3 separate regions of the Homo sapiens genome follow, and regions 1 and 3 are each linked to region 2. Evidence: fine-mapped expression QTL. A gene starts in region 2. Each other region holds a variant in brackets. All regions are shown on one strand. Distances are from middle to middle. Region 1 overlaps TNIK (TRAF2 and NCK interacting kinase). Region 2 holds the start of TNIK (TRAF2 and NCK interacting kinase). Region 3 overlaps TNIK (TRAF2 and NCK interacting kinase).

Region 1 (8,184 bases), 400 kb after region 2:
CTATGAGGATGAGGGGGTGTATGTAAACACCTATGGCCGGATAACTAAGGATGTGGTGCTCCAATGGGGAGAAATGCCCACGTCTGTGGGTAGGTTAACCATTCCTTATCTCCTTCAGCAGTTACACCCCCCAAATGAAACGAAAATCAAGAAATGTGAAACAACCATTTGATTCCACAAAAAAAAAAAAAAAAAAATCTGTGAATAACTCTTGTAAGACTTGCTTTGTCCATTTATCTCAAGTCGTTTGTCATTTTTGTGGTTAAGATGTGAACAGATGCTGTGAGTTATTGCCCATCTAATGTTTTTAATGCAGTTTTGGAAATTCCTTTTGACAGCCTACATTCATTCCAATCAGATAATGGGCTGGGGCGAGAAAGCTATTGAGATCCGGTCAGTGGAAACAGGACATTTGGATGGAGTATTTATGCATAAGCGAGCTCAAAGGTTAAAGTTTCTATGTGAAAGAAATGATAAGGTAAATCCGTTTCAACATTTGCATTAGTGTTTGCATTTTAAGAGACCACCAGGTACCTGTGAAACCTTCATTTTCCTTTATACTGATTTGAATCACATCTGTGTTAAACAATCAATATTATCTTGAAATGGCATTATTTGGTTTGATCCATGTGAGCACTCAATATATTATTCACATGTCAAAAACTACATAAAAACATTTAGAAATTTCTTGTAAACCTCTTAGAAACCTTTGTGGCCTAAAGGCCTTTTGATGACTCAGCAGACACCCCAAATTCTCCTAAGCACTTAGAGCAGTTGGCCCATCATTAATCATCTCACAGTGGGTCAACTTTATACTTCCACTTTTAGACTTTTCACAAAGTCACTTTCAAGACCTAACCAATCACCTTATATTCACCTTTAAATCCAAAACATTTGACGTTTAGAAATATAAGCTTTTTAAAAATGTCACCCATTCCTTAAGGAATGCACAATCACAAACTCAACTAGTGCCATGTCTTGTGTCATTCCAGCCATGTTTCTTCTGAAATGTCATAGGTGAACTGTTTTCCAGTGAAATTGGCTGTGTCCGTCTGGCATGATCAGTGACCTCAGAGGGGTATTCTGCAGCAGTACTGCTTCTCCCTTACCCTCCCTGTAGAGTAACCCCGAGGTTTTAGTAGCTAAGCCATACTGCATTTGTGAATTCATCCTTTGTGGCTGTGGCCAACATAGAAATGCTGTCCCCAAAGCCACAGACATAAACGCCTATAGAAAAACAGTATGATGGGTTGAATTTTTGTATATCCCTTTGTCCACCCCAGTTCCCCAAAGGTCAGGTTGGTCTTAGTCCAAACCTGGTGATGTGGGCCTAAACTATATTCAACCCTGGCCCACTACTCTGACCTGATGTGGTCTGGGTGGACAGTAGCTGCAGGTGGCAAAGATGGTTCCAGCCATTTAGATTTCCCAGAAAACAAACATAACCTAGTAAAACTCCAGCTCCCACCCAGTCTCTAAGAATCAAAAAACCAGGAGTGATCTGGGTATGGATACCCACATTCCGATTGAAAACCTACCCCAGCAGGGCTGTTCCAAGCCATGCCACACCCTTAGGAGTAGGCTGGGGCCACACCAGTTGTCTGCAACCCAAGGTTTACAGCCAGGGGCACACAACTTGGAGGGAAGAGCAGCCCTTTCTTTTCTTCATTGTGGTTTTCCATAGGCCCTCTCTGTCCTTCTCCGTTTTGATTCATTGACCCTAAGAGTAGCATTACTTTCATATGCAGCATTAGGTGAATGTCAAGCATTTCCAGAGACCTCCCTAAGAAGTTGTTGTTAGCATTCTTCTGAAGAAGCTGTAGAAATGAAGTAGCAGAGACTTTAGACTAGTGACAAAAGCAACTACCTAACAAAAGTTAGGTATTGACTGACTGAAGGGCTAGGCCATAGCCCAAAATATTACTTTCCTGGGGCAGTGGTTCTTTAACATTAAACATTCAGCTCAAGCAAGCAGTAACCCAAATTTTTCTCACGTTTGTCAGTTGTTTGATAAAATGACTTAACAGACTCAGACCTAATGGACTGTGGTTCTCCTCATTAATGCTATGATCTCATTTGCCCTGGGATATGCCACCATCAGCAGAGAAACCATGCGTTAACTCTTGAAATGCCAAAATGAGTAGGCATTAAATACCTTGCCCTATCTGACCACACTATTTAATGTTTTTATCTTAAATTTAAAAAACTGAAATCTGAAACTGTATGATAGTCAGTAGGCCTAAAACTCCCCCTTGACTTTGAGAATTTGAAGGGATTCCCTTCCATCCTGAAGTCTACTTTCTTGTCATTTAAGGGTGAGAGAAGGGAAGCTTCTGTGCCTTTCTAGAAATTAACAAAGAACCTGTTGGGTCCTAGACCAGAAATCCAGCACGTTATCCTAGCATGAAACTCCCTTTTAAAAAGTGAACACCCAAAGAGATGTTACAAATGAAGATATAGCCCCTTCAGCATCTCTGGAGACCAATACCACAATAAGGAATAATAACAACCTAGGAATAAAGGCAGGAGTTTTTACATAGGATGCACGATATCCAAAGGGACTTTATAAACACAAGCCATTGAGTCTTAAGACCTGACACATGGCAAGGATAGGACATGTGAGAGAAAATGGATGGACGGTTGAAGAAAAGAGGGGAAAAGACCATGCAGTTGAACTAACTTCTTTTTAATTTCAAACAGGTATTTTTTGCATCCGTGCGATCTGGAGGAAGTAGCCAAGTGTTTTTCATGACCCTCAACAGAAATTCCATGATGAACTGGTAACAGAAGAGCACTTGGCACTTATCTTCATGGCGTTATTTCTAATTTAAAAGAACATAACTCATGTGGACTTATGCCAGTCTAGAGGCAGAATCAGAAGGCTTGGTTGAACATATCGCTTTCCCTTTTTCCTCTCCCTCCGCCCCTCCCAGTACAGTCCATCTTTCAATGTTGCAGCCTGGTTGAGAAGGAGAGAAAAAGGTGGCAGGAATTTCCAGGAGATCCCCAAGAATGCTGCCTTGTCTGTGGACAAAGATGGACCATGTGCCCTTCGGAATTAGGGATAGAAACAAATATTGTGTGCTCTTAACGATTAAGCTGTGTTATGGTGGGTTTTCAGGTTTTTACCTTTTTTCTTTACCCCTTTACTCTGCAAGAATGGGGAAAGAATGCATACTGCGAAAATGAGTCTTTTAAATTCTGTCTGCCTACTAGTTTTAAGTATATGGTATGTTGTAAAATTTCCAATGATGAGAGACAGCACAATAAATGTACCTTATCTCCTTAGGCTGAAGGCCATAACTACATAGTGGAGTAATTTAAGAACTCTCTTGCCTTCACCAACCCAAAAGGTTGCTTTTTGATAGCAACTGGCTAATGAATTTTTAAAAAGAGAAGAAAAATACTAGTTTTCCCCTCTTTTGGGAAATAGATTTTAAATGGCTAAACTACTAGCCTTAAAACTACTAGTCTAATAAAATCAACTACCACTTTTGTGAATCTGACAGGCCACATTTTTATATGGCCCTTTACAGAATGGAGTGTGTTGAACAGGATACTAACGCCATTGAGTTGAGCTGGCCTAGCGATGGAGGGACACTCTAACACAACTTTCCCTCAGCTATTATGCAACAGATCAGGGAAAAAGATGGGATGACAGATGGGGTCAGACAGAAAGAGCTTCTGGGAAACAAGCTTACATAGTCTTTTTTAAAATGCACAAAGCCTCCCAGCTAAGAGGTCACTTGGTTTGGGCTTCATTAGGACTGAGACTTTGTTGAGTTCTTTCTGGGACTTGGAGAGTGGATGATATTCAGGCTCTGAACATTCCCAGCGCTCTCCCGAGGGTGCCACTTTCTCAAGATGAAAACTGTGACTGAAAAAATTAATAAT[AAATG/G]TTTCTGAGCTGCCTGTGTTCTCCCTGTGTGGGTGAGAGAAGGGACTAGACTCCTAAGCCTGCCTCAGATACAAGAGGCATCATTGGCTCCAATTTTAGAGAACTTGAAAGCAAGGCTTTGGACAAAATTTTGAGACCCTAATCACTTTACCTTCCTCCAAATTACCCAACATACGGTAAACAACATTTGTGCAGAAGTATGTATGTATTTAGTTCAGGTTGACTTGTGTCCTTATAAACTCTTACTCAAATGATTTGAACTTTTATGCGACTGGGATTTTTTTTTTCCAAAGCTACAAGCATGGCCGCCTGTGGTATCGAGGTGTTGCAAACAATATCTGTGTTGCGCTTCCTGTTTTAACCTACCTCGTTTTGTTTGTTTTTGTTTCACTGTTCATCACAGCAGTGTTATCTCCAGGAGACATATAGAGAGCTCAACCGGCAATCTCAGGTGCATTTAACATTTTTAAAACGAAACAGTAGTTGACCAAATTTTTCTTCTTAAAAAATTGGAAGTGGGGGGAATCCAATGACAAAAACTAATGTGGCTTGTTTCTGGAGAAAATAATTACTGTAAATGGAACAACAACAACAAAAAAAACTACGATCTTACTGACTTTGCCTAAATACACAAGCAGCTGATGTACTATTAATGAGAACGAAATACACATTAGGAAAATGGAGCCATTTCAATCTAGTGGTTTGGGCAAGATGGGGAAGAGAAGGGGAAACATTCTAGTTTCTGGATTACATTATTATGCCCCTCCTGAAAAGGTGGTTGTCATTTGCATTTATTTAAAGCAGGTAATATGCAGGAATGTAACTGAGGATTATCTTCAGGCAATCAGCAAGATATCCTCCTCATGGTCCCTTTAGCTCTCAAAAGCAATGAAATCCTCCTGTTCTCATTTTTACTGCTGTGGTTGTGCTGCTGAACAATACTATCTTCTCAAATTCCATGCCACAAATTCAGCAATAACTTTTTGGATTGAATTTAACAACTACTGTAATTGGATGCTGATGTGGACAAAATATATTGATTTCGATTTCACTCCCGAATGTGATTGCCACCAGCTCTTTATATTGCTGCTGTGGTATTTTAAACCAGAAGCTTCTTTAAATTATGTTGCAAACTGATCTTTGTTTTTATGTTTTGTTTTGTTTTTATTTCTAAGTGATAAGTTTGAAACACACAGCTTTAAATGATTTTTTTATTGTGGGATTTTGGGTACAGTTAAGAAATAAAAGGGAATCATTGTGTTTAAACATAAGGTAGTTTGTGAATGTATTTTTTAAAATCTAGAGTCATTGAAACAAATCATAAGAAAACAATATTAATGCAGTCTTGTTTACAGTATGTACAGTGACATAACATAGAACATGAGCTTTTCTGGTGCCAACAACAATAAAACACACGTTAAACATCAAGCCATGCCTTTTATATTTTTGTACTAATATTTTACACTGAGTACAAGGCAAATCCAAATTTAAATGGGCCCCCCAGAAATCTGTGCTCTTTAAAAGACAGATATTTAAAGAATTCACTGAAGCTTTTATCTTCAAAAATAAATTTTCCTCCAGCAAGACAGACCCCAGCCCTGACATAAGGAGGCCTAGAACATGCAGAATACGTCAGAATGGTGTCCTTGTGGCTCATCCAAACTTTCTGAATTGCCTTAATTCTTTTTGGGGGTAGGGGAGGAACGGTTGCTTTTCATCCATTTTTATAGCATCTCAACAAAAAAAATCTTCAGTTCTGATCTTTTTATAGGTGATTTTGTCTCTAGAAATTGGCTCATTTTATTTTTATTTTCCTACAAAGAGAAACTGGAGAAACTGAGCCCTCCCCTCAGAGTAAGTTTCACTAGATCTGCCAGTTCTTACTGCTCTAAATTAATAATCATCCAGTAAAATCTACTGAGCCTGCCCACACCATAGTCTGGGTCTGGGGTCTGGCAGGTGACCATCATTCCTGGGTGCCAGTCAAAGATACTGTAGCATGGATTCCTGCATCCAGTGGTGGTAGGAATGGATGACCAGTGAAGTTCCTTCAAATAATGAGGCTCTTCCCCCTGCCAGTTCCAGCCAGACCACTGTCATAACACACAATGCAAATGAAGACAGCCTTCACTAAGTTCCACATAAAATTGAACAGCTCTATTTTAGATAGATCTCATTATTTTTCTTGGAGACTTCTAAACAATCCTTCAAGAAGACCTAGAACTATTATTTTTATTAAACAGGGTATATTAAGTTATGGGTGAAATCTCACAAGGTCACCTGGACAGGGGCTCCATTTTTCTAACACTTTGACATTGTTTTCTAGGGTGCACTCCTAATATACTTTGCATCAAGTACATGTTTTTTAAAAACACCTTAGTTCCTGGTTGTCAAAACCTACTAACAATTTTTGTCTGTTCTTGTGACTCATTGGTAATTGGTGTCTCTGGTCCCTCCTGTCCAGTAGATTATTAGAAAGATGTGAAATTCCAGCCAGAACCATTTTGGTTTTATCCACTGCCAGGAAAGGAAGGGGCTAAAGTCTCACATTCCACGAAGCTTTTAAAAAAATGCTTTCCCTACTACTATGTGTACCAGTTCCCGTCACTGTATTCTTGAAACGTGGAAGAGCTCTTTGTGTTAACAGTGTGTGCTGTCTTTGAAAGTCTGCTTGAACAGGCATCACTTGCATTTGTGCTGATTGCTTTAAGATGTAAGATGTGCTACATTATTTTTAAGAAAAAAAATAGTTATTGATAAAACTTTTAATTTTAACCTACTGCAGGAAAACATGAGAAAATCCACAGCATGCTGATAACAATTCTGAATGATGCTACTATGCTCTTTATATTCCAGAATCACCACTGGTACCATGTTCTGATCATTTCAACAGTCTCTAACTTGTTAGTTACCTTTTAGTTCATTCTTCAAAATTTAAATCTAACCAAATCAAGCAAAACATAACCAACCAACCAAAAACTGACCTCCCCTGAGACTACATAGTTGTAACATAAATCTAAAATCCAAAAGTCTAAATTTGATTTAATTTACCTGCTAATATTTCTCATAAATGCCACTATATCTCCTTGGTCACTATATATCAGGAACCCTAAAGTAAGCTGTCCTTTCATGGATCTTAAATAAATTGGGTGTAAAATTGATCACTTTTCAGGAGTCCCAGCAAAGAAGAAAACCTCTTGAGAATTTGCAAGTTCAAAACTGACAATTTGTATATTCCTACCAAACATTTTCTAGGTTGTTTTTATTTCTACACCATTATTCTGGGAATTCTTCCATTGATAACTAGAATATTCAACAGTTTGCTTAGCATTAAACAGTGTGAGATCATAACCCTGTGCTTTGGACTTTATTCTTCTAGACCTGCCATTCCAGGAAGTGCCAGAATATACCAAAATAAAAATCCCCATAAAAGCATTTTTAAACAAAAATCCCTGGGTAATGTTTGAGTTATTTTAAATCTAGATCAAAATCTTGGATTCTTCTGAGTCCATGATGACAAATGTTTGGATGAAAAGTAGAAAATACAGTTAAAAATAAAAATGTCCTAAAGTTTACAGATTTTTGAGTTTGTGTACATATCTTCAAACTCACTCCTTGCATGATAGGGTTTGGTTTTAATGGTTTATTTTTATCAGCACCAAGTTGCATTGCACTATTGAGGCTGAGCAAATGCTGGTGGAAAGGTGAGTTTTCATTTCTGGCAATGGATCATTATTTGTACACTGTAAATATCATGCCCAGCTACCCCTTTCCCTTATCTCTTCCCCTGGGATAAATGTTAAGGAATAGTAATACTTATTATGGTATGTTTAAGAAACCTTGGACATTACCCTGAATCAAAACTTCAAATGTTAGGTGGCAGCAGGAAACAAAAGATTACAGCTTGAATGAAATTTTAAAATTGAATGTTGTAAAACTATTTTTGAACGTTTTAGCTGCCTTATTTATGTTAATATAACTGTAGAGAGATGCCAAATGTATAATATCAGAAGGGAAAACTACGATTTTGCTGTGCCTACAATTGTTTACATTTTTTAAATCTCCAGTTTTCAAAAGTATTTTAAATTGTCAAACATTTGCTAAAACTGGATTATAACCTCACCTGAGAATGAGAGAAGAAAATCTTCCTGGCATATTTTCCAGTCTGAAACTTTTGGTTACTTTCAGGTATTTTTTTTCTTGCATACAAAAATCATTGAGAAAGTACTTTCTACAGTTATTCTAAGCAGTCATTAAAAATGCTTTGATAGGTTTCCCCACATGGT
Region 2 (8,184 bases):
TTGAAGTCTGCTGAGGGCTCCTTTCTCACAGATGGCCCCTTCTATGCATCTTCATGTGGTGGAAGGGCGAACAGGCTCCCTCAAGCTTCTTTTCTCAGGGCACTAATCCAGTTCATGAAGGATCTGCCCTCATGATCTAATCACCTCTTAAAGGTTCCACCTCTTAATACTATCACTATGGGGGTTAGGTTTCAACACATAAATTTTGGGAGACACAAACATTCAGATAGAACAAATGCTTAGAAAAATATCTGCAGCATAGTATTACTTATTATTCAAATTTTCTATTCATTTTTATAAAGAGGGTCTCCCTCTGTCGCCCAGGCTGGAGTGCAGTGGCTTATCTTGGCTTGCTGCAGCCTCAACCTCCCGGACTCAAGCAATTCTTCCACCTCAGCCACCCTAGTAGCTGGGATTGCAGGGGTGTACCACTATGCCCACCTAATTTTTGTATTTTTTGTAGAGATGGGGTTCTACCAAGTTGCCCAGGCGGGTCTCGAACTCCTGGACTCAAACTATCCTCCCAACCTGTCCTCCCAAAATGTTGGCATCACAGGTGTGAGCCACCACCGTGCCTGGCAGAAATCTTTAGCAAAAAAATTAGGTATCATTGTTGGAGTCTCCTTTTCCTCTTCCTCTTTTCTCATTATCCTGAAGTTAATCTGTATCCTTACTGCCTGTATCCATGCTTTATATAGTTTACTACATATTTATACATATGTAAACAGCATAGTGTATTATTCGGCAGGTTTTCAAACTGCACATAAATGGTGTCAGTTCTCTTAATCCTTCAGATTACATCAAGAAAAAAATCTCAAGTCTTGAATGTTTTTCCTGGTATTTGCTATTCTCTCTTTTAACAAACTAAGAGTAGGCCTTAGGCTAGAAGCCCAGAGCAGGAATTGATGGCTAGCTAGAATTTAATAATACTTCTTTATTTTCCATTATATTTATTTTAATGGTTTCCTCCCCCCTTTTTTTTTCAAAGCAAGTGTTGTTGGCTTTCCATTTAGAGTAGTGATTTATGTTTTCTTTTATATTAAGTGTAAGAAAAAAGTGTTGATTTAAAGAAAAATGTTAAGTAAGTGGTAAAATAGTACAGGCAATACAGAGACATAGGAAAAAATTAGGAAATTTATACTGGAATAGCTGAAATTTGATACACACTTGACCAAAAGGAAAAAGTTCAAGTTCCTCCTTCTCACCTTCCTTTACCAGTTGGAGGTCCCTTTGATACTGCAATCTCTCCTTTTATGGTATTTCCTGCAGCCCACACCCCTGCCTTCCCCTGGCTGTCTCATCAACTTCTCAGGCTCTTAGGAAGCCCTCCTCCATTTAGCACCTGGCATCATACTGCATCTATAACTTTCTCATCTAAAACTAAACTAAATCTGAATGCCAACTTGGCACCCTCGTGGCCCAAACAGCTCACTAATGTCAAAAAAGTTGATCTGTTTGTGATGTTTCAAATATAATCATGAGTATAAAACGAAGGCTTTCCATGGAAAAAATATTTAACTCATATTTCCTTATGTTTGCAGTTTTAAAAAAATAGTTGTTTATAGATCTTAATACTTGATCTTAAATTATCTTCTTTCAACCCTGAGACAATACATTAACCTGTTGTCTAGATGAACGGTAAAAAAACAGGAACACAGAAGAGAAAAAAACAAAGACAATGATGGGAAATAATCTGTTTTTTTTTTTTCATTTCGACGTGGTGGCTTACTGCACGTTACTTACTATGTCGAACCAGATGATTTTAGTAAAAAATGAGTTTAGTAATTTAGTATAACACGTTCAAATGTTTACATACAACGTTTACAGGCAAAAGCTACCAAACTGTTGTGGCCATTGAGATGTTGGAACAATTTTCAAGTTTCATGGTGCATGATCCACAATGCATATGAATACATACAATATCAGTAACAAAAACAGTACAATGTACACCAAAGGTTGTTTCAAAGTCCTCTAATGTCTGCAGTCATGATGAACTAACTGCACTGGCTTTCATTCATTCATTCATAAGACTTATTTTGAAGCTGATCTTCATACTGCATGATTAAGAAACCATCAGTGCAGTGGTCAGAATTACATTCTGCTGTTAACAGAGGAGCAAAGAATGCTTTCAAAGCTACTGCTGTATTTGGAAAAAAGTTCAGTTTTAGTGTTTTCTTTCTAGGTATTTTGCATGGCTAAGGCGGGAGAAGAAGGGCTGCGCGGGGATTGGGGGAAGCGACTTCCCACTCTTGATTACAGAAGGAGAATCATGTATACCACTGTAAAACATCCAACCTTTAAATGAGAAAGTGAGTGAAGTGAAATCGCTCTCACGTACACATCTTCCGCGTTACTTCTTATCCGCCAGCCAAACTTTCTCCATCAATCTGGGTAGGTCTGCCACGAAAACGCAGCCTGAAAGAAATGCTGAGTCCTGAGGCGGCGTGTGTTGCCTCACCCAGTGTTGGCTTTGGAGTTACCTGAAGCCTTCTAGCTACTGCACCCAGAGAGCAAGCTTCTCGTTTCAACTCGGTTGTTTCCGTGGGGAATTGCGGCACGAGCAAGTCCTGGGTGTGGCGATGCCAAGAGAGCGCTCAGATCTCCCATCTTTCCCGCTTCTGGCAAACCTTCCCAGCCCCGAATCGGCGAGTGACCAGCACCCGGGATCAGCCGTCCGGCATTCCGGGGACCGCGGGTGGACCCGACCCCGCCGCAGCTGCAAACTGCCGAAGCGCCCAGCTGGGTGCACTGTGCGTGTGCGCTTCTTCCCTACTCTTTCCGCGCCTGGAGGCGGATCCCCTTCCTTGCACACAAGTCCTTATATGCACCGGTTGCACCAGCCCGCGTTACTCCGGCCCCACAAATAATTAATGGGGGAGGGAGGGTGTCGCTTTTTTTTCCTCCGGCTTTTTCTCAGCGCGAGAGCATTTGAACCGAGGAGAAACCCCAAGACGCGACTGAAGGGCCATTTTGCTGCAGTGCACGAATTGGCCACACAAAAATAGAGCTTGGGTCCCTATGATAACAAGTCAAGGTTCAGGAACAGCCCCTTCGGGTTCGGCCCGAGGAGCCCGCAAAAGCCTGGGCGGAAAGGGTGCGCGCCCCTCCCCCCTCCACGCTGGTGCAGAGGGACCGGGTCAGGAAGCGCGGCCTCTCCCCAGTCCAAGACCACGCCTCCTCCGCCTCCCCACTCCCCCTTCACTCCTCCCAGGAAGCGGTGATAGACAGTTCTGCGTGGTTCTCCACCCCCACCCTCCCCCTGCTGAGTGGAGGAGTTGATGTGTCTCATTATAACAGCCAATGCAGCCGCCATCCACGCACAAGCAAAGAAGCATGTCCCATTTAAATACACCCACGCAGCCCCAGCGCCCTTAGCCGATCGGGGCGCTCAGCCCACACGCACCGCTGCTCGGGGCTTGGAGATCCGCGCAGGCTGGGCTCCCGGACCCGGCGGACCGACGCGCGGAGGATCGGGATCCGGCGCTGTGGGGCTGGGGTGGGCGGGGGAGGCTGGGCCCGGGGCCTCTGGCGCGACACCCGCATGAGGACGCGAGTGAAATAGACCAAGGTGGAATTTCCAAGGGAAAAGCTTCGGGGTGGTTTTGGTCCATTTCTCCAGCGAAGAAGTAGACATGGCGAGCGACTCCCCGGCTCGAAGCCTGGATGAAATAGATCTCTCGGCTCTGAGGGTGAGCAGGACGTTTTCTGGTTTCTTTCCAGTGGTTTGGGTTAGGGTGAATGGGCTCGGTGCGTGGACTGGGGGCTGGGGCTGGGGCAGGGGGACAGCAGCGGGAGAATGCGTCGGGGAGGGAACCTGGATTCCCGTTTTGATTCGGGGTTGCTGAGGTGCTCCTGGCTGAGCCCCTACGGCAGGGGCTGTGCGGTACGTGTCTTCCTCTGGCCGTGGCTTAGGCTCTCCCGAGGGCTCGTAGAGCTTATGCCAGTTTCATCTTATACCGGTGTAAGAGCATTAAAATGAAAGGCGTGTGTGCGTGTGTGTGTGTGTGTGTGTGTGTGTGTACACGCCCCGGGCAGTTGTCTGGTGCCAAGGCGCGAGACCCGACTGTCCCTTCTGCAAAAAGAATGCCAGCGTGAATAAAGGCACTGGCCCCTCACGTTTTCCAGCTACCTGCAAGATGACATTGTGAGGCTGGCTGTCCCCGCGAAGCCGAACCTGCCGCTCCAAGGGGGCAGTTATTGCTATGCTGGTCTTGTAGATGGCAACTGCCTCCCCCTCCCCCTTTTCTACCTCCCGCGCCCGGGCGCCCTCTCAGCGCTCCCTTAAATGCCAGTCTGCCACTCACCTTTATTTATGGCTTTAACTCAGCCCTGCCTGTTCTTTCTGACTTTGTGGCTGTAACGTTTCAGTTTTATGGCTGAACTTAAGCAGGTGAAAGGGATGTGTTTTCTGCTTTTCCTCAATCAGACCGGAACTCCCTGGAGTGTGTGCGAGTGTGTGTGTGTGTGTGTCTGTGTGTGTTTTCCCCGTGTCTGTGGCCAGTCCTTTGTAGAGCACCTCCCTCCCCCCAGCCCCACTGGTTTGCGTTTACCTTCACGTGAATTACCTCAGACGCCGTTTCATTGTATTGACTAAGACATCACTGATATAGAATCCATTTTGCTGTTGTTTTGAGATCAGAATACCAGGAATCCAAGTGCTGCTTCGACGCTTCCCCACCCCCAACTCCCGATCCCAACACACTCCTTTGGGGAAGGGGGCAGAGCTTTCTTGCCATTTTAATTAGATGCTGCCTGCCTGGAAGGGGGTGAGGGGTGGGGATGGTGGCAGCAGCGGGTGTCTGAGAAGGATTGGACACCAATTTAAGGACTGCTTCTTCCTCTCCCGAACCAAAAATAAAATTAAAAAGAAAGCGAGTGCATATACTTGATGTATGGAGGGTGGATGAGAAGGAATTCATGGTGGCTCTCTACAGGGAGACACCAGGATGGATGAAGCATGGAAGTTCACACGCCCTCCTGAGGAATACATTGTTAGATTGATGCTGAATCTTGGGGCCATTTACCTGGATTCCTAGTACTTCTGACATTGCCGCTATCTGCACTGATATATTAAAGTGCTACCTTTGTGATCAAAGTGGTACTTTCTCTTTGGTCTCCTTAATTAAACCTTTTCCTCCACATCTCTTTGAATAAGTCTTTCTCTCTTCGTCTTAATCTGTTGGGCTAAGAGATGAGGTTTCAGCAAGGCAAGTAAGGAGTTGAGAAGAAACAGAGATGCCGTTTGAAATGGGCTGTTCTGATAGTTGGGCAGCCAAAGCTCATTCATGCATTATTACAGGAAGCTGTCTATTTCCCTGGAGTGGAAATGCCACATCAAGAACCGGCTGCCCCCTGCGCAGCGGGGTGGGGTTGGTAACAGGGTGGGTGCATTGGCCAGGTCTGTGGCTTCCTGCTTTACCGACTGTGTGTGTTCATTTGCCCTACTTTCTACGCTGGGAGTTGCTGCCGGCGAGTTAATCAGGTGGATGGATGGCCCCGACTGGGGGTGGGGTGCTGCGAATCGGTCGGAGGTCGGGGTGGGGGGCGGGAAGTGGCAAAGGGGGAAGGGGTCTGAACAATGCGCAGGGCTTGCGGTGATTTCCCTGGGCCGGAATCTCGACCTTGCTCCTCTACTGGAAAGCAGTCTGATGTGATTTTAAGTTGGGCCGGGACTTGTCCCTTATGGGCTTTTTCCTCGGGAAGGTTTTCTGAGATACCAAGCACGGAGCCTGCAGGCAGGGGAGCAACCGGTGAGGGCCCACTGGGCGGACGACTGCGGTTCACACTTGGGATGTGCTTTCTTGTGATCTGTATTTTGAAAATATATCTTTGCACAATTCACTGAAATTGCTCTTTGTGGCCTGGGCTATCAGCTTAGGGCTCTGCTTCTGTTTTTCTGCCTGCTGGGAGGTGTGGAAACAGAGAGGGCAACAGCTAGCTTGGGGACCAGGAACTGCTGGCTAGAAGACTTAGATGCAGATGTGGAGACAGTTATATCCTGGAGGGCCAGGGTCTTTGACCAGTCTTGTGGGTGAGGTGTGTCTGCTGGAGTGGGTCCAAAGGCCACATAGGTAATCTCCACAAATCAGAGGGCAGATCATCTCCACCTTGCCACATTTGGAGAGGTGGCCTCATCTAGATGAGATGTCTCATTTGTTCCTAAGCCCTTGGTAAAGTCTGCCTGCTGAGCCCCTCCTGGGGAATGCCTGACCCCTGAAATGCAGCCAAGGTCAGTGGCTTCTGGGAGAATTTGCTGCAGACTTACCAGTCCCTCGCTGTTTCGGTGGCTCTTTAATGTACACAGTCAATGCTCTTTTTGTAAACCCTGGGCTCAAAGCATTAAAAGCAGATCCTGTCTAGAGAGGCCTTTATCCTTCTCACTTTGGGGGCTTATTGTTCTCAGCCAGTGATTCCAGACCGGACCCAGTCTAAATTTTCCCCAAATAGCAACAATGCATAATTTAAACCAGAGCAACCAATGACAGCACTGATCATTTAAATTATGCAAGATTTGCATGGTTTAAAAGTGAGTGAAGCAGGATCTTCTTTGGTTAGAAAATAGGTACTTTGAATCCAGTTTTAGCCCTGATTTTTAGAGCTCAGAGATAAACTAAATCTTGAGGGATGGGCTGGAATTGTTTTATAGATTCAGAGCTGGAAAGAGAATTGTAGAACACTCAGCCACTCCTTTCATTGAACACTTGGGAAACTGAAGCCCAGAGGCGTGAAGTAAGTTGTTCAAGGTCACACAGTAACAAGGGGAGGGGACAGCGAGGAGCGTGGTTTGAGGAAATAATCTAGATTTCCTGACTCCTCATTCAGTGCTCTTTTCTCTAAGTCACACTTTCTGTGGTGGAATCAGAAATCAATAATACATTTTCTGCCTGAGTACAAAAGAATAGCAGAAAGGAATAATTTCACCAGGGTCAGGGAATTTTATTTATTGAGAATGGCGAAACTACTTCATGCAAGTAAGCTTGTGATACATGAAACCATGGAGCTCTAGGCCACCTTTGGAATTCATCTTGTCCAGCCCTGGTTCAATGCCTACTCTGCAGGCAAACGACTGTCTGAAATCACCTAGGACACATGGTTGTCCTGCACAGGTAACCTCTCTGAGTAACCTGTGTCCATCAGAGCATGTCTCAAGGGGTCAGTATAAACATACATGTTATTCAGATGGCTCTGCATGTGAGGTTTATAGAGTTGTGTGTATGTTTTGTATTATCTATGTGGATACATATATTATGTGTAGTATTATGGATATAAACCGTATCCACGTGGGTGTATGAAAATGTGTGTATACATACATAGGCTACAGCAAACAATTTACTCATTCAAACCTGGGGCTTGAGTCATTCTTGCTTCAAGACATCTCAGTATTAAAAGAGATGAAAGTTGCCACCAGTGTGCTTTATTACATATGAGGCGAGCTCAGCCCAGAAAGCTTTTTGGAGATTAGCATATTTCTGGACCTAAGCACCTTGGCTGTCCTTAACTTGGCCCACAGGGTAAGGCATTCAAGGCCAGGAGTTGGCTGCTGCTGACCTCATACTCTCAGCTTCTGCCAGGACTCACATACACTTTTGTATTTGAACAAAATTAGATGATCTACACTTGTCTTTCCCCTTAGCCCTCATTCCCTAGCCATTCCTTTCTCCATTGAAACCCAGATTTAAGAATTGACCTCATCTGAAAGCCTTGCATACATCCCTTTGCTACACTTTTCATGCTCATGTTTTACTTGGTGTGTGATTTCCTTTCTGCTTCTTTACTAAACCGTGGACTTCTTGAGGGCAGAGGCTAGATCTTGTTCATCTTTGGAGCCATAGTCTCCATTAGTTGGATGAATGAGTACGTGAATGAATGCTTGAATGAATGGAGTGGAATGAACCCTGTCTCCCCAGTTCTATGTCCACCTCTTATTCACTCTGTGACTTTGGGTAGGACATTTAACCATAGTTAATAAGAATCATCACAACTGTTTGCCTTTCTCACATACTGGTTTCAAAATCAATAAAGTATTTAAGGCAATGCTTTAAAAACCATACAGCACTGTACAAATATGCTATCCCATGGTTAAGTAGAATTTAGTGGGAAAATTGATACCATCAACATTTGATTGCAATGATTTTATCTAATAGAAAATTATCTTTCCTGGGCACAGTGGCTCACACCTGTAAT
Region 3 (8,184 bases), 280 kb after region 2:
TCCTAGTGTGAGGTTACACATGTGCCCCAGCCACCTGCTCTCAGGTAGACTGCACTTTAGGCAAGAGGCTAGACCCCCTAGAAAACCCCCTCCACATTGTGCAGACCTCTGCCCAATTACTGAAGAGCCCTGAGTGTCATTTCACAGGATATTGAGAAACTTAGTTCTGGGGAGTGACTCAGCATGAAGGTTATGAATTTTATGAAGCTCTCTTCCAGTTACATCTCTTTTTCATGTGGCCTTGACATTTGTTTGATGGCAATAGCAAGGAAACTTACCTTTGATCACTCTAATCTGAGACAATTTTGAAAAATGTACAAAATGCATGAGGTATTTAAAATGAAATATCTATATTAGGATGTGGGCCATTGAACCAAATTTGATACTAGATTTTCTTACCAATCTGCTGTGAAACTGAGGCAGCAAGCCTCTTCTTGGTGTTTTCTAACCAGGTTTTCCCCATCTCTTGATATTCCCCCTCTCATGCAATATTTAGAGACTACTGAGCCACAGACAGAGTATGGGAGGAGAATATTGTTAGAGATGGAGATTGTACAGGTAGAAATGGAGGCATTAGCCTAGAAAATTCTGTTCAGAGAATAAAAGTCACTCTGAGCATAAGAAATAATATAAAGGTATACTGGCCTCTATTGTTACATACTAGTCTACTCACAAAATAGGCAATAATTGTTTATCTTTTCAACAAATACTTTGAGTACCTCCTACTGTGCCCAACTCTGATCTAAGCACAAGAGAGACATCAGTGAATGCCATCATCAAAAAGTCTCCCTGTCCTCATCTTATTAGGTAAAACCATATGAAATTGCTGTTTTTCTAGTTAAACCAATTGAATATAAATAACACCTACTATCTGATCCAGCCATTCCACTCTCAGGTATTTAACTAAAAGAAATAAAAGCATACACCCTCGGATTTGTACACCAATGTTTGCAGCACCTGTATCTGTAATAGCCCAAACTAGAAACAGTCCAAATGCAAAAACAGTGATATGTCCATAGAATGGAATACTACACAACAATAAAAAGGAGTGAGATACTGATATGTACTACAACATGGGTGGACTTCAGAAACACTATTCTACGTGAAACAGATCGAATACATAAGACCACATATGATGTGATTTCACTTATACAAAACTTTGGAAGTTACAAACTAATTCATAGTGACAGAAAGCAGATCATTGGTTGCCTAGGGACAGGAGAGTGGGGATGGGTTCAGGCAGGAAAGGAAGGAGGCAAATGAGATCTTTGGGGGATGATGGGTATGTTTACTGTTTTGACTGTGATGATGTGTTCACAGGAGGATCCCTACGTCATACCTTATCAAATGGTGTACTTTAGGTACAGTTTATTATATGACAATTATAGCTCAATGATGGTGTTATAAACAGTCAAATAGCAGCAATTTCCTATGGTTCAACCCACAGATAAGTTTCAGTAACGAATTAATTTAAAATTGTTTATATTCATTTTTCATACATTTATTGATAAGCTGCCATGTGCCAGACACCATGAGTGGTACTGTCAATGAAAAGTAAGACTGTTTCTGCTTTGAAGGTTAGTGGAAGAAATAGGTTTGTAAACAGAAAACTGAATGACTTTCACAGGAAGTTCTGAAGCAATTACCAGGTTTAACCAAGTTGTCCTTTGTTGACTGAATTTATGTGTGTGTCTGCCCCTTCTTTTTCAGAGTGACTTGTGGTCTTTGGGTATCACCGCCATTGAAATGGCAGAAGGTGCTCCCCGTAAGTACCCTCCTCTGGGGTGAAATCTGTTGCTGGTCTGCTCTGCAGGTACTGAAGTTTCCTTGCCAGGAGCTGCAGTTGCTTTACTTCCACTACACCGAGCCCTGCATGGATTCAAGCTGGCATATTTAGAAAGCAGAGTCATCTTAAATCAACCAGGAATCCATTCATTTCAGAGCAGTGGGAGAATCCTGTTTTTATTAGAAAAAAAAAAAAGGAAGAAAAAGAAAGCATACTTTGGGGAGTCTTGTTTGTTTTACAGATTCTGTACATCATTTATTCTTGGACTACTCCTCACCTGACATAAAACTGTGACCAACTCACAAGACTATAAACTCCAATGTATGAAAATCCAAAATTAATTTTCAGTGCACAGGTTATACAAAGACTCCACTCAATGGCTATCACTCCTCTTAAAATACTGATGTTTAAAATTTTAGATTTCCCTGCTATTTGAGACAGAGTGGCTAGGGCTCCAGCAGTCTTGAGAATCTCAGTTCCTTGAGATTTGGAGTATTGGCCCCAGCAGAGAGTCTCTGTCATGAGACTGTGCCTCACAGACTTCCATATAGGAAGTGTAACTGATTGTCAGCCCCAGCTGCTGCAATGGCAGCAGGCCGCACCTTTCAAGGGCCACTCCCCGCCAGTGACCTAGCACAGTGGGGATACTAAGGCAGGCCCTTTCCTGGAGGACACAAGATTCCTTTGTAGGCAACTTTCACCCAAGTAATCCCCTATGACTTTACAAGACCTGCAGGACAGGCTGGGACCCTTCCACCTACCTTTTCTCCCTCTCTCCTTCACTCAGGGTCAGACTTGCATAGCAATCTGATGACTTCCCATACTGCCTGGCTCCTTCCCTGTTTCCATTCACATAGTAATTTACCCAGTAATATCCTTGGTGTCTGCATCTCAAAGGACTAGGACAAAAATAGGCCCTTTATTTGCACGACAGGTCATTATACTTATGACTTTTACCTTCGGGTTGTCATCGTTTTCTTACTTCCCAGTCTAGAATTGGTAGAACTCATCTGTAGCATGATTGATTTGGAGTGCTGGTTGACAAAATTGCCCTCATTCACAATGCTAATAGGCATGTGTGAATCAGAAAAATAATATATTGCAGTCTTAAACCATATTATCATTCTTGATGAGTGGTAGACAGGGCTAAAAATAAACTTCTGCCCACAGAATCCTTTGGCTTTTAGGGAGCATATATTCTTATTCTAGCTACAAAGTAGAAATTCTCCCAGATGTTTGAAAAGTAAACTAATAAAATATTTTATTAAAATAAGAACATATGAGTGCTTTCACTATAAACGATAATGTCATGTTTACAAGATGAGATCTTTTTATAACTTTGTTTTTCTGCCAGACTCTGTGTGACTTAATCCTCTGGGCTTCCTGGGGCCAGTGAATTTAAAAACAAAATGAAACAAAACCCGTTACGAAACCTGAAAAGCCATTCGGGATATCTGGAAACAGAGAAAATGGGGCTCTGGGGCTGGTGTTTTGGACTCCAAAAATCTGTGTAGATAACAATTGCATTTGGATGAGCTGTCGACGTGTAAGAAATAGACGGGATAATGAAATGCCTTTTATTTATGGCTTAGGCTTTTACTAATTAAAAATAGCTTACCATCTCCATTGTAGTTGTCATCTGATGGTATTTACTTTAAATGTCAGGTGGTCATTCACAGCAAGGATGGCTGGTTGTTGACCCTTTAACTTAGTTTCCTTAAATATGAAGTAAACATGTATTCACTAGAAATGTTAGCAGTAGCTATGTGAACCATGTTGTATTTTATGAGACTCCTGTAAGTGGATATTGGATCTTTCAAATGCTCAGAAGCATTTGGATATTCTGACTTTGTGCTCACTGGTGGTGTGTAAACTGAGT[G/A]GGTCATTGGGCAGCCATTATCTGCACAGCCAAGACGGGCTTGGCCTGGGTTTGGCCTCCTAACTGTAGCTGGCCCTTGTTTTGGTCTCTTGCAGCTCTCTGTGACATGCACCCCATGAGAGCTCTCTTCCTCATCCCCCGGAACCCAGCGCCTCGGCTGAAGTCTAAGAAGTGGTGAGTTTGGTCTTCGATGTTTCGCAGATCTAAGGGTGAGGTTTTCTTGTGATTCTATTTTGGATTAGCTCTAATCCCTAGGTCCTGCTGATAGAATGAGACTAACATGTATGATGACTTGGTGAATTACTTTCCATATGCTGTCATTCATCTTAAAGTATATATTGAGTATCTACTGTTTGTACAGCAGGTCTTTATTCCCCCACCTTTAAGGTAAGAAATTATTAGCCAAAATGGGTAAGTGAAGCCAAGTAATAACATGAAAGCTCTTTGATCTATAACTCCAAGTCATATCTTTCCTGGCAGCACAGAACAGCTTATCAGAGAGGGTGATAGTTTAGAGAGTCAGCCTGTTAGATTGGCTGATTTCTCTTCTATTCCTTACAACAATCATTCCCTAAGTGCATATACATACCAGGTAATGTTTGAGATTATTTCTCTGGCTCGTGTATGAGCATTTGCAGTTTTTTTGTTTTTACTACTGTTTTCACATATGGCAGGTGATACTGGCTTCTTATTTGGGGCAGCGATTTAACTTTTCCTTTTGATAAACTTACATAAAACAGTGGCTTAATTTAAAGGAAACTACTACATGAATACTAGTATGAGTGGTGTGAGGGTACGGCAAAAATTATGTTGATAGGATATGACTGACTGACATTTGGGAAACAGTTCTACAGGTTAAGCCAGATGTTGGATGTTTGACTTTTTGGGGATAATTATATAGTTGGGATCTTCCTATCTTATTATTCCATAACCAAAATTCATTGCTTCCTCCTTTCTTCCTATGGAAATGGTGTATCCTCCCTGATACATTCTTGAATCTCGGATTACTCATGGTCTGAGGTCAATTCCTGCACTATTTGTGACCTCCTATCCTTTTTCTAGAGATAAGTCCTGGGCAGTGAGACCATGAGGGACAGGATCCTTCTGCCCCTTTCCATAGCCCTTCATGATCAGGCGCTTGACTGGGGTCCTCATGTTTCCCACCCACCCACACACAGGCTCACCTCTACCATACAGGGGGCAGCCTTAATTACCACCAGTCATCTACTAATGAGAGCCACCCTGGTGGAACAGAGGAAAGGGCACACTGCACAGAAAGAGGGAAGGAAACAGCCAGAAAAGAGATGGCAGCCTCAGAATTGCCGGGCCCTGCGAGGGGAGTGAGAGTTGCTATTGGTAACAAGGAGGCAGAGCGTTCCCTGCTCCTCCTTCCTCTGCAGAGGGTCATTGTGGTGCAAGACAACCCTTCTCTCCCCAGCAACAGCCCTCCCATTGGGTGTCATACATCATGTGATCGGCAAAGCACCCCAACACCCTGCTTCCTCTCTTCTCCCTGGATCAGACTCCCGGGGAGAGGGACTGGCGCAGTTCTCTTCCCTGGAAGTGACAGTGACACTACAAAGCCCTCTGCTAGGTTCCTGCTTGATATCTGAGCTGAGTCTGGTGTATACAGTGGGCTTTACTTACCCTGTTCCCTGCCCTATCTTCTCCTTGTCTCCCTTTACTGCTGCAGGACACGTATTCTGAGCTTTTCCACAGAGGAGGACAAACTGGCCCTCCACAAATGTATTTGGCTGTCACACTATGGTCATATACCCTGTTTTAAAAATATGTGTATTAATTGGCAACACTTAAAAATCTGTCAATTGAGCATTACATTTAGATTTCTGGCCTTTTTCTTGCAAAGATGCAGTGAACTGCCTGCAAAGATGCTAGCTGCTGCTCCCATTTAGGACAAGTGATTGTCCTTCTCCTCCAGCTGCCACCTCCCCCCAACTCAGAAGCTGGTGTCAGTTGGTTAGTATACATCTCCTGTTTTCTTTTCTTTTCTTTTCTTTTTTTTTTTTTTTGAGACGGAGTCTCGCTCTGTCGCCCAGGCTGGAGTGCAGTGGCACGATCTCGGCTCACTGCAAGCTCTGCCTCCCGGGTTCACGCCATTCTCCTGCCTCAGTCTCCTGAGTAGCTAGGACTACAGGCGCCCGCCACCATGCCCTGCTAATTTTTTGTATTTTTTTTTTTTTTTTTAGTAGAGACAGGGTTTCACCGTGTTGGCCAGGATGGTCTTGATCTCCTGACCTCATGATCCGCCCGCCTCGGCCTCCCAAAGTGCTGGGATTACAGGCGTGAGCCACCGCGCCTGGCCACATCTCCTGTTTTCATCTTAACCATGGTCTACACCACCCCTTTTTGTGACCTACCTGACCCCACAGAAAAGTGAGTGAACAGCCCTTGCCCTACAGTGTCAGTTTTCACCGACTGAGACCCAAAAAAGATCAACGGTGTGCTGACCTTGTTTGAGAAATACAAACTTTTAGGACAATGCAGTCTGATTTTTCGGCTTCAAACCTTTGACAACAACTAATTTTAATAATGCTGGAGGGAGCAGGAGAAGTTTGGAAACACTGAGAAGTCCAGGCCAATTTCATCTCATCCTGCCACCTTGCACACCTTTCCCTGATGTGTAAGGAAAACTGAGTAGGAAAGCTATGGGAACAAGTCCCATATTGTCAGACAGGGAAAGGAAAAGTAACCTGATTGCTAGAGAGAGACCGGGGAAACAAAAGCCCTGATAATGTGCCATTTCACACTTCGATCCCAGCCTTTGTAGAGGTGGTGGTGCAGCCTCCAGGCACATGATACTTGACAGCAGACATGGCTCCCATTTCTCTGCAATACAATTCCACCAGTTTTTAAGTGAAAATATTTAAACACTTCAGAGTATTTTATCTTGAAAGCGCAGGTCCAAAGTGATTTGAAGTAAGTTAGGGTTTACTTTAATAGACTCTAGTGTTTGAGAGGAAATGAAACATTTTGTTTATGTTTTTTATTTTAATTATTTAAGAGGAAAAGACTCCCTCCCCCGACCAAGAGACAAAATTCCAAAACATTCTTTTATTTCCAGCTATTCTCTACCTAAATGAGTTACCGGGTTAAATGCCTTGTTCTCAGTGTATATATCAACACCTGACCAAAGGGGGCGCCATTGTTGAGACAGGGCCATGAACTCTTCTCATGGCAAACATTCAATAAAGCATCATTTTCAACATGACTGAGTCTACAACATACAAGGCATAAACTGGTCTCTTAGTGTGAACTTTTTTTTTGTTTTTTAACTTGTACCTTCAAGATTTGAGAAATAAAGGCAGTGGCACTGCTCTTTCCACTGTCATCGTGGAGGGAAAGGAGACCACCACCACTCACAGGAGCCCAGTTCTTCCTTCCCTATTGGTATGATGAGGAGAGGCCTTTGTGGTATGGGATGATGAAGTTAGGGCACCACTGAATGTTCAGGCAGCTCAGCCATTTAATAATAAGTTGTCTGGGAGGGTTGTAACCTTTGTGGAATCAGAGGAAACCAAAGATACTCTCACCCTCTACCTCCATATCAGCACCAGCAAGTGAAAAGCAAGACTGGGATACCCATTCTCTCTTCCTGTCTCTTGTGCGTGCGTAGATTCCACTCGCAGGGGTAAACCATCTCCTTCAAAAGATTTTCTCCTACCTTCTCTTGCCACCCTGCTCATCCACACTCACCTGCCCTCGCAAGTATACTCAGTGTCACTGCTTCCCTCCAGGACTTTCTGGAGAAGGATAGGAATGGCTCCATTAAGTATAAGACAGTGAATCTTTCATGTGCCCTTTAAATTTGAAGAGCCCACACAGGCAAAGCAGCACTCAGTTGAGGTCATTAGAAAAATCATAACTGCTTATATGTACAAGCTCCACTGGTCCAAGCCACTCATGCTTCAGATGCAGGTGTGCAGGCCCAGTGAGGCTAAGTGGTGTATTTGCACGAGTTCTAGCCTCCTTACTGGGAGAACCAGCCTGGACCCAGCCTCCTGCTTTTGCTCCAAGGCTAAAAATCACCCCCGTTATTTTATGAGGCACCAGTTCTGATTCTTGGTGGGTTGTCAGACTTTTGAGATAGGACAAAGTTCGTGTGTGTGTATCAGAAATTCCTTCTACTAGACTGAATATTCTAGTAGTAATGTGACTTTGAACTTTGGACTTTATTAAAATCCAGCTAAAAACTATTACACAGACTTTAAAAATTAACCTGTTTGTGCAGGCTTCTTGGAGATAACAGCCCAGTTGACTCCTCCTGCTAAGCTATTTAACCCATACGTGAAATAATTCCCTTAAAGAACTCTATGTTTACTTAGTTCAACAGAAATGAGGATTTCTTTTTTTTTAGAGACAGAGTCTCATTCTGTCACCCAGGCTAGTGTACAGTGGTGCAATCATAGCTCACTGCAGCCTCAAACTCCTGGGCTCAAATGATCCTCCCACCTCAGCCTCCCCAGTGGCTAGAACTACAGGTGCATGCCACCATGCTCAG

What was found.
Region 1: its variant is fine-mapped to the expression of TNIK in whole blood (TOPMed, PIP above 0.99).
Region 3: its variant is fine-mapped to the expression of TNIK in skeletal muscle (GTEx, PIP 0.99).

Annotation. Positions count from the first base shown.
Region 1 is chr3:171,058,481-171,066,664 of GRCh38, reverse strand. It overlaps TNIK (TRAF2 and NCK interacting kinase), which reads left to right. Exons shown (of 33, transcript NM_015028.4): 31 at 1-89; 32 at 339-478; 33 at 2,701-8,184. The coding sequence ends at 2,784. Among named protein-coding and RNA genes, the nearest start is that of SLC2A2, 36 kb to the right of the region's middle. RefSeq lists an enhancer at 4,417-4,995. The variant AAATG/G (reference allele first, on the strand shown) is at 3,895.
Region 2 is chr3:171,455,512-171,463,695 of GRCh38, reverse strand. It overlaps TNIK (TRAF2 and NCK interacting kinase), which reads left to right and starts at 3,291. Exons shown (of 33, transcript NM_015028.4): 1 at 3,291-3,689. The coding sequence starts at 3,633. LOC124906303 (a long non-coding RNA gene) reads left to right here and starts at 5,525. Exons shown (of 2, transcript XR_007096168.1): 1 at 5,525-5,750. LOC102724479 (a long non-coding RNA gene) reads right to left here and starts at 4,478. Exons shown (of 3, transcript NR_189068.1): 1 at 4,305-4,478. RefSeq lists an enhancer at 2,090-2,590 and a silencer at 3,602-3,661.
Region 3 is chr3:171,170,907-171,179,090 of GRCh38, reverse strand. TNIK (TRAF2 and NCK interacting kinase) reads left to right here. Exons shown (of 33, transcript NM_015028.4): 8 at 1,711-1,765; 9 at 3,761-3,839. Among named protein-coding and RNA genes, the nearest start is that of MIR569, 68 kb to the right of the region's middle. RefSeq lists a silencer at 4,947-5,016. The variant G/A (reference allele first, on the strand shown) is at 3,666.